Linked DNA regions of Homo sapiens. The protein of the gene in region 1 interacts with the protein of each later gene in a pairwise test. Each region holds a gene or a part of one and is shown in the gene's direction. Other genes may lie near its edges.

Evidence for each region. The genes of interacting proteins can lie anywhere in the genome.
Region 2: the proteins of NID1 (region 1) and SKIL interact in a two-hybrid assay, tested with the Homo sapiens proteins (one large-scale study listed by BioGRID and IntAct).

The regions. Positions count from the first base shown.
Region 1 is NC_000001.11:236,043,525-236,048,883, reverse strand, and holds part of NID1 (nidogen-1 precursor), read left to right. Parts: coding exon 1-194; intron 195-3,200; coding exon 3,201-3,427; intron 3,428-5,359. UniProt on the Homo sapiens protein: Sulfated glycoprotein widely distributed in basement membranes and tightly associated with laminin. Also binds to collagen IV and perlecan. It probably has a role in cell-extracellular matrix interactions.
Region 2 is NC_000003.12:170,374,088-170,379,446, forward strand, and holds part of SKIL (ski-like protein), read left to right. Parts: intron 1-5,359. UniProt on the Homo sapiens protein: May have regulatory role in cell division or differentiation in response to extracellular signals.

The DNA.
Region 1 (5,359 bases):
TGGACACGACCGATGGCCTGGGGAAGGTTTATTATCGAGAAGACTTATCCCCCTCCATCACTCAGCGAGCAGCAGAGTGTGTCCACAGAGGGTTCCCGGAGATCTCTTTCCAGCCTAGTAGCGCGGTGGTTGTCACTTGGGAATCCGTGGCCCCCTACCAAGGGCCCAGCAGGGACCCAGACCAGAAAGGCAAGGTAAGCTCCCCTCCAGGTCCAAGTGCAGGTAATCAGACACATTGGCTTCATACACTTTGGTCTCACGCCTTGTGCTGCTTTGACATAAGTTATACACCATTGATAAAGACAGGAAATCCAAAGCAAAATCTAGTAGGCTGGTTATTGCAGGTCCCAAACCTCCAAAAGCTTATCTGCAAGGTTGTATAACTCTACGTTTTAATGACAAGTAGACATAAAGCAAAGCAATTCCTGGTAAGACTGCTATGTGGCAAAAATAGGGTTGATAAATGGCATCCCCTGGCTGCTCTTACCTCAGGTGGCAGATAGTGGAAGGATAATTTATTTATTTATTTATTTATTTTTCTTTTTTTTTGAGATGGAGTCTCGCTCTGTCGCCCAGGCTGGAGTGCAGTGGCACGATCTTGGCTCACTGCAAGCTTCGCCTCCCCGGTTCACACCATTCTCCTGTCTCAGCCTCCCGAGTAGCTGGGACTACAGGCGACCACCACCACGCCCGGCTGGTTTTTTTTGTATTTTTAGTAGAGACAGGGTTTCACCATGTTAGCCAGGATGGTCTCTATCTCTTGATCTCGTGATCCACCCTTCTCAGCCTCCCAAAGTGCTGGGATTACAGGCGTGAGCCACCATGCCCGGCCTTTTTTTTTTTTTTTTTTTTTTTTTTGAGATGGAGTCTTGCTCTGTTGCCCAGGCTGGAGTACAGTGGCACAATCTCAGCTCTCTGCAGCCTCCACCTCCCAGGTTCAAGCAATTATTGTGCCTCAGCCTCCCGAGTAGCTGGGATTACAGGCATGGGCCACCACACTGGCTAATTTTTGTATTTTTAGTAGAGATGGGGTTTCACCACATTGGCCAGGCTGGTCTCCAACTGCTGACCTCAAATGATCCACCCACCTCAGCCTCCCAAAGTGCTGGGATTACAGGTGTGTGCCACCGAGCCCGGCTGGAAGGATAGTTTCTGACTAGAGAAATTATTAATATGAAACGATAGGTTAAAATAACAAAGTACTCCTGAGGGATGCAAAGATAGAAAGGTAAAGCCCAGACTCTAGTTGGGGAGACAAGAATCATTTGGACCATGTGAGTGGTTCAAAACCCAAGTATTGTCATAACCCAGGGTTGGCCTCTCCGTGGGCGCAGTCATCAGGGACGGCTGGAAGGACCAGGCTGTAGAGCACGGACTTGCCCTTGAAGGAAGCAGGGTCTTTGAGTAGGTCAGGAACTCGTTGTTAGACCTGAAGTGACTTTTTAGGACAGGCCTCGATTTTCCCTTGGAAAAATAATTTCTCTCTACCATAACTTCACCTTTATAGGAAAATGAGGAAGAAAGAAACTTGAAGGGTCCCAAAGCACTTCATATAAATGGGAGGTATTTCAGGCTGGTGGTTCCTAAAGTGTGTACCACAAAACACCAGTCCTACAAGATACACCTTGAGGAAAAGGCCTTCTAGTTTGGGAAATGCTAAAACTATATCTCCCTCTTGGTGATTCACCCTGTTCACTCTGAAAAGTCCTGCAGTCAGGAAACTTGCAACTTGCCTAATACTACTTTTTTTGTTTTTGTTTTTGTTTTTGTTTTGAGACAGAGTCTTGCTCTGTCACCCAGGCTGGAGTGCAGTGGTGCCATCTTGGCTCATTGCAATCTCCACCTCCTGGGTTCAAGTGATTCTCCTGCCTCAGCCTCCCAGGTAGCTGGGACTAAGGGCGTGAGCCACCATTCCAGCCTTGCCGAATATTGTTTAACTGAGCAGTCTCCAAACCTGTGACCATACCTCTTCCCTTCCCCCGCTCCAAAAAAGATGCATTACATCCCACAGAGCACACTTTGGGAAAGTCTGTTAGGGGCCTGCATGACACATTTTGCTTGCCAACTGTTATCTGTCTGAGTGCCAAACTTGAAAACAGCTTAAATGTTAAGTGTCTCAGCTGCCTCCCTTTCACTTGGGTGATAAATGCCTAACCCATTGGTATGGATCCCTTGCTTGCCTCTTGGGCCTAATCTGTTCCACCTCCGCATACCCTTTGCAGCCGCTATACCAAATTACATGTAATTCCCTGACCTTGCCCTTGCTCTTTTTTTTTTATCCGCAGTATCTTGCACAGGCTGTCCTCTCTGTTTGGGACGTCCTCTCCCTGACCCCCCTACAGGTGGCAGCTTCCTCCTGCTTGTTCATTCAGACTGGGCCCTCCCGTGAGGCCTTGACCAACCACAGCCTCCTGGCATGGGATGCACTCCCACCGCTCCTGGCATGGGACGCTTCCTCTTACGGCTCCTGCAGCGCTTTGCAAATGTTTCGATTACAGAATCCAACCTCAGGTTTTGCAATGTTTTCTTCACATGTCAGCCTTCCCAAAGTGCTGGGATTACAGGCATGAGCCACCGCGCCCGGCATGTGCCTGCTCTTTCATACGTGACCTCATGTAGTCTTCCTCATTTCTGTGAAGGAGGTGGTTTTATCTCCATTTTACAGATGCAAACATCGAGGCTTAGGGAACTCAAGTATCACGCCCAAGTCACATAATAATGAGTAGAGCAAAGATTTGGATCCAGGTCTGTTTTCTCCCAAATCTCATGTTTTGTTTTGTTTTTTCTACTGTACGGTGCTTGGGTTCAATAAATGTTTGTTAAACGATGAATGCGGTTGAATATGTTAACAGCCATGGAAACAAAGTCTTTGGGTAAGAATTTCCTAAACTGCGTGAGATTTTAGGCCACCATCTGGAGGTACCATCTGTATAATTTTTGGTTAACCTTAGGGCCACAGTTATGCAGAAGATATTTATGAATTAATCAGAAAATGTCATGTTGACATAGCCTTAGGGATATTTCAGTGGAACTATCCCAGAATCCTAGGTTCTTGCTACAAAAGTCCTTCTTTTAGAATAAGGTGAGAATATTGCCATCGCTCTATAGCACTGTACGCTTTATAGATAGTCTGGCGAATAACACATTTTAAAATCTATCGATATTTTTCCGAGTAACTGAATTTTAACTCATCTTCACAGAGAAACACGTTCCAGGCTGTTCTAGCCTCCTCTGATTCCAGCTCCTATGCCATTTTCCTTTATCCTGAGGATGGTCTGCAGTTCCATACGACATTCTCAAAGAAGGAAAACAACCAAGTTCCTGCCGTGGTTGCATTCAGTCAAGGTTCAGTGGGATTCTTATGGAAGAGCAACGGAGCTTATAACATATTTGCTAATGACAGGGAATCAGTTGAAAATTTGGCCAAGTATGCTTTCTTTGTTCTTCAGTAGATTCTCCTCTTAATATTTTTTAATGTGGATAATGTAATGTGTATTATAGATCATTACCTAAAAATGTTCCTATGGATTTAAGTTTTGCATATAGTTTTTATATTATGAGATACTCTTTTTCTGATGAACTTAAGGAAATGTATTTTTAGAATGAACAGATATCCTATTTTTTAGATATCATCCTCATTTAAAATAGTTCTTTTTTTTTTTTTTTTTTTTTTTTTTGAGACAGAGCCTTACTCTGTTGCCCAAGCTGGAAGGCTGGAGTGCAATGGCACAATCTCGACTCACTGCAACCTCTGCCTCCCAGGTTCAAGTGATTCTCTCGCCTCAGCTTCCCAAGTAGCTGGGATTACAGGTGTGTGCCACCATGCCCAGCTAATTCTTGTATTTTTAGTAGAGACGGGGTTTCACCATGTTGGCCAGGCTGGTCTTGAACTCCTGCCCTCGGGTGATCTGCCCACCTCAGCCTCCCAAAGTGCTGGGATTACAGGCATGAAGTGCCGCGCCCGGCCTTAAGACAGTTTTTACCATTTTGTCTATAAACACTGTTAGAAATAAGGGTTATTCAAACCTATCTCCTTTGATCTCAAGGCTGAGAAAACCTTTTCCTTCACATTGACTAGGGGGAATATTCTTACAACAGAAATGGTGCTCTCAGGTTATGTTGTAGAATTTGACAAAAGAGGGAAAAGCCCAAATTGGATTTTGAAGATTAAAACCTTTCCTCTCCCATTATTCTTTAAAAACCAAGAGTGAATCCCCTAAAACCACCTTTTAATTTTATATCTTCAAATCTAGCTTGAATTCCTCTGCCCTTCACTTAGTGATGTGCTGGTAAATGCTTAACAACTGGTTTTATGAGGGCAGAGGAACCTGATTTATAGCGTTTGCCTGTTTCTGTGATGTAAATACTCCTACGATGGCCAAGTTCAAGTTATTAACGTCATGTCACTCATTGAAGAGTTCAGAAAACATGCACCATTATATATATTCTCACCATAAAGATAAAATAGGTTTAATATATATAATTTCAAGAGCATGGACAGTAGCAAAAGGATTAGAATATGATGAGTTTTGAATATTTTTTCCTTTTAAAAAATATAACTTGTTTAATTGGAAGTTCATGTAATTTAATTGTTTAGAATGGCTGTGTTTAATAACTGGCTTGCAAAATTCCTAAAACTTTAACAGCCAGCTCTCACAAGCTAGTCCATATAAGCTCCCACACACCACTGTCTTTACTTGAATCCCAGGCAGACAAATTGATTAGACATCCTATTTATGCAGGACTTTTGTGATTTATCATCCCCACCCCACCCCATTGTTTTGCTCAGTATTTTCCACTGAGTAATGTATGTCCCCTCTGTCCACCGTATAATATAATTATTTCATGTAATTTCTGATAGGAGCACTTCCAATCACAGACACAGAAGAATGGTAAAAATGGTGGAGGAAGAAGTAGAGATTAGGGATATTCTACTATATTTTATAGTTATAAAATGCTTTTGGATTTTGTATCTCATTTGCTTTTCACCATATCCTTTAAGCACCAAAGGTAAACTGAGACTAGTCCAAGATCTCACAGCCAATGGAGTTGGGATTTCTTTTTTTGTTGTTTTTGTTGTTGTTTTGAGATGGAGTCTTGCTCTGTCGCCCAGGCTGGAGTGCAGTGGCACGATCTTGGCTCACTGCAAGCTCTGCCTCCCGGGTTCACGCCATTCTCCTGCTTCAGCGTCCCGAGCAGCTGGGACTACAGGCGCCCACCACCACGCCCAGCTAATTTTTTGTATTTTTAGTAGAGACGGGGTTTCACCATGTTAGCCAGGATGGTCTCGATCTCCTGACCTCATGATCTGCCCTCCTCAGCCCCCCAAAGTGCTGGGATTACAGGTGTGAGCCACCGC
Region 2 (5,359 bases), on another chromosome or scaffold:
TAGGAAATCTGATTATCAAAGGGTCACGTATACAGAATAAGCATAGGAAGGTGCAGAAATTTAGAGAAACTTTCATAAAATGTTTCTTAGTTTTTACTTATTTTATATTTTTTTACTGTATATTTTGGAATTGTTTAAATTGTACATTCATAGACATTTGGAGTTTTATGACCTAAGAGGAAAGAACCTTTGGAATGAAATTTTTGTGTCTGAAATTTTGCTTATGTGTTTGAAATGAGGATGCTATCTGTTCATTTTGGGGTAAATAATGATGGGGAAATTGGGTGATAAGAGCATTTTGAAATGTTAAGGCTCTAACTTAAGCTACTAAATGATCCACTTCTTTGGCAAGTTATATAATGTATTGTATTTTAAAATTTAAATACACATAAAAATAAATGATTCCTATGTTGAAAGGTAAGATACCAGGCAGTAGATACTCATAATTTGGTATCTAATTTTTATTCCTGATTAGTAGCATTACTGCTGAACCATTTAATTATATTGTTCTTTTTTTGAAAACCTAATTTGTATGTTGACACAAATGCAGAATAGATGAGAAAATCTGGCATGCCTCTGAATGTTTTGTTGTATCATAAACATTGTGCTTTTCTTAATTGTTTTTAACATACAGTTAGGATAATTTGTTATAAATGTGTTTATGGCTTACCACAGCATATTAGGTAAAATTAGCTTGCAACATTTTATCATGGTTAGTGTTGTGCGTGTCCCCATCATTTGTATTGTTTAATTTATATCTCTGAAAAATGCAGCCTTAGAAACTGTTGGGCTTCCTTGGTGCTTCATGGAGTAGAGGGATATCAAACGTGAAAGAGACCAAGAGTTTTGTGGTAGCAGAATAACCTTGTAAAAGGCTACCTTGGGAATTAATGAGCTGCACTGTCATTCAGAATTCATTCAACAAATAATAGATATTTGATAGATGAGTCCCTACTACATGCTAGGCATATAGTGCTAGGTATTAAAAATACAAAGGTAAGGCTGGTTCTTGACCTCAAGCTGCTGTTTAAGCAGAGGCTGCGTAGCCACTTAACAGGGATTTTAAATAGGGAATTCAGACATTGGCTAGGGGACTATGCTAGGTGATCTTTAAGATTCCTTAGAAGCTCTAGTCTGACTCTTACTGGGTTGGTCAAGACTAGGAAATAAAATAAAGAATAGGAGCTAAGAGGGATGACTGTTTAAAAATAAAGGAATGTGCTAGCAGTTATTTAAGGTGGCACCTGAAGTTTAGAGACACAGAAATAAATAGATGCTAGGTTTGGCTCATGAGTAAAGATAAAACTTACTCTTATAAATCAAACTGTAGGGTTTTGAAATGAACTTGATCAAAATTGAGTCAGATTTCAAGTCAAGGTCTTTGAGCAAATTTAGAATTTGCTTGATATTCTGAAGATTTGAGATTCCAGTATTCATTATAGGAAAAACTTTGAAATATATAAATCAATTTTAGTAATTTTATATTTTTTTCTTTTTCTTTTTTCGAGACAAGCCCCACACTGTTGCCTAGGCTGCAGTGCAGTGGCAGGATCATAGCTCACAGCAACCTCAAACCTGCCAGCTTCAACTGATTCTCCCACCTCAGTCCCCTGAGTAGCTGAGACTACAGGCATGCGTCACCACGGCTGGCCAATTAAAAACAATTTTTTTTGTAGAGATGGGGGTCTCTCTATGTTGTCCAGGCTGGTTTCGAACTGCTGGACTCAAGCAGTCCTTGTGCCTTGGCCTCCTAAAATTCCGGGGCTATAGGTGTGAGCCACTGGGTAGGGCCAATTTTAGTAGTTTTAATTTAAAAAATCTGGAAACAATTGATTTCTTGGGCAGTACATCTAGAATTCTTTCAGATATAACACTTATTTAAAGAGGAGCTTTCTTTGTTTTTTAACAAATGATGTCTAGAAAAGAAATTCTCATTTAATTCAAGCTGATTTTCCTTTTTTTTTTTTTTTTTTTTTTTGAGACGGAGTTTCACTGTCTTGCCCAGGCTGGAGCGCAGTGGCGCAATCTCAGCTCACTGCAACCTCCACCTCCTGGGTTCAAGTGATTCTCCTGCCTCAGCCTCCCGAGTAGCTGGGATTACAGGGATGCACCACCATGCCCAGCTAATTTTTTTTTTCTTATTAGAGATGGGGTTTCACCATTTGGTCAGGCTGGTTTCGAACTCCGGACCTCAAATGATCCACCCACCTCGGCCTCCCAGAGTGCTGGGATTACAGGTGTGAGCCACTGTTCCTGCCCTCAAACTGATCTTAAATTTTACTGATTTGTTAGAATGAACTTATCCTCGTTCATTGACACCTCTTTGGTCATGTAGAGCTGGGGTGCAAAATGTTCTACCCGTTAAGCTACTTTTTAAAAGCATTGTGTTTTTTTAAAAAACTGTTTTCATGAATTGTAAAATGTCTGAAAAAGTTTTGAATCTAAGTGGTATACAGAACATAATTTAGCTATGTCACGTTGACTCAAGAGTTTTTATTTTTTTAACGAGACAGGGTCTGGCTCTGTCACCCAGGCTGGAGTGCCATGGAGCAATCTCAGCTCACTGCAACCTCTGTTTCCTGGGCTCAAGTGATCCTCCTGCCTTAGCCTCCCAAGTAGCTGGGACTACAGGCACACATCACCTTGCCTGGCTAATTTTTGTATTATTATTAGAGATGGGGTTTTGCCTTGTTGCCCAGGCCAGTCTCAAACTCCTGAGCTGAAGCAGTCTGCCCACTTTGGCCTCCCAAAGTGCTAGGTAATATCACAGATGTGAGCCGTTGCGCCTGGCCAACTCAAGATTCTTAAACATTAATTACCATACTTTGTTGAATTGGGGTAGGGGACAATTGAGATATATTAAATTATTTGCCCCGGTCTATGCTAAAGCCTTTACTCAGATTGTCTTGCTTTTTGAAGCAGTTTTTGTGTTTGCATCTTGTAATTTTCCTCTCTCCTTAGGCTGTCAGCTGTCACTTAGCATCTATCATTTAGTATTTCTGTTGCCAGAAGTCAGTTCCCTTTCTTACTGCTATAACTAAGCTATAGGCTGAGGAACTATGTAAATAAGTGATCAGTTTGTTTTATAAATAAGCAGTGGAATTTGCCCAGATTCTGAATATTAGTTCAAAATGTGATGTTTCGTTTTCTGTTTTCCTTTTTTTTTTTGAGATGGAGTTGCACTTTGTTGCCCAGGCTGGAGTGCAGTGGAGCGATCTCAGCTCACTGCAACCTCTGTTCCCCTGTTTCGGTTGATTCTCCTGTCCTCCTAAAGTGCTGGGATTATAGGCATGAGCCACTGTGCCCAGGCCTTTTTTTTTTTTTTTAATTCCACATTTACATATCATGTAGAGACCTTCACTGAATATTCAACTCTTAAATCTTTTAAAAATATTAATTTTTTTCTTATAATTTTGAGGTCTTATTAGTATTTCAAATTCATTGCTCAATAATTCTTTTTTTTTTTTTTTTTTTTTTTTGAGACAGAGTCTCACTCTGTCACCCAGGCTGGAGTGCAGTGGCACGATCTCGGCTCACTGCAACCTCCGCCCTCTGAGTTCAAGCGATTCTCCTGCCTCAGCCTCCTGAGTAGCTGGGATTACAGGCGCCTGCTGCCGCACCCGACTAATTTTTTTTTTTTGTATTTTTAGTAGAGACGGGGTTTCACCATCTTGGCCAGGCTGGTCTTGAACTCCTGATCTCGTGATCCACCCGCCTTGGCCTCCCAAAGTGCTGGGATTACAGGTGTGAGCCACTGTGCCTGGCCTAATTCTTAACAAAAATAAAGATCTCCCACATACATATTTTTTTCTTTTTTTATTTTTGAGACAGAGTCTTGCTCTGTCACCCAGGCTGGAGTGCAATGGCGCCGTCTCGGCTCACTGCAATCTCCACCTCCCAGGTTCAAGCGATTCTCCTGCCTCAGCCTCCTGAGTAGCTAGGATTACAGGTGCGTACCACCACACCTGGCTAATTTTTGTATTTTTAGTAAGACAGGGTTTCACTATATTGGCCAGGCTGGCCTTGAACTCCTGACCTCGTGATTTGCCTGCCTTGGCCTCCCAAAGTGCTGGGATTACAGGCGTGAGCCACTGTGCCCTGCCTATTTTTGTCCTTTAGTTGGCCCTAAGTCATCTCCTGACTGATCAGATTTTAAGATACATATTCTAAGAGCGGTTTCCTTTCTGTTTTCAGCCTGTTTTGTTGAGGGCAGTGGGTTACTTGTCAGATCTCTCCCAGGTTTCTTCATTCTCATTGATTTCCTCCATTAGTAGGATCTCAGTAATCAAACCAGAGTTTGGATAGTTTAGAGTTGATTTTGTTTTAATCACTACTGCTTAACATCCAGAGATCTGTTTGCAGTCCTTAGTTTCTTGGTTCCAAACTGGAATATTGGGACATCAGGCAAAACAGCTTTGCTACTTTCCTAATTTGTTGAATTGGGAATTGGACTCTCTCTCTCTCTCTTTTTTTTTTTTTTTGGAGACAAAGTCTTGCTCTGTCACCCAGGTTGGAGTGCAGTGGCGCGAACTCAGCTCACTGCAACCTCTGCCTCCCGGATTCAAGTGATTCTCCTGCCTCGGCCACCCAAGTAGGTGGGATTACAGGCACTCACCACCATGTCCAGCTAATTTTTGTAGAAACGGCGTTTCTCCATGTTGGCCAGGCTGGTCTCAAACTCCTGACTTCAGGTGATCCACCTCCCTCAGCCTCCCAAAGTTACAGGCATGAGCTGCTGCACCCGACCAGAATTGGAGCTTCTTTTATTTATTTATTTATTTATTTATTTATTTATTTTTTTTATCTTGAGATGGATTCTGGCTCAGTTGCCCAGGCTGGAGTGCGGTGGTGCAATCTCGGCTTACTGCAGCCTCCGCCTCCTGGGTTCAAGTGAGTCTCCTGCCTCAGCCTCCCGAGTAGCTGGGATTACAAGTGCGTACCACCATGCCCAGCTAATTTTTGTATTTTTAGTAGAGACTGGGTTTCGCTGTGTTGGCCAGGCTGGTCTTGCTCCTGACCTCAGGTGATCCACCCTTCTCGTACCACCACGCCCAGCTAATTTTTGTATTTTTAGTAGAGACTGGGTTTCGCTATGTTGGCCAGGCTGGTCTTGCTCCTGACCTCAGGTGATCCACCCTTCTCGGCCTCCCAAAATGCTAGGATTACAGGCATGAGCCACTGCGCCTGGCCATGGAACCTCTTAAAGGTAGGGTTTAGAGAAATATCCAGCTCTCTTTTTTGTTTTTTCCCTTGTTTAACTCGTTCCTAATCGCATTCTCCCTCAGTTTCCTGGGTTTGTCTGTTAACTTCCTATTTTTGTTGGTCACCTTAACCATGCCACATTTCAGCTCTCCTTTCC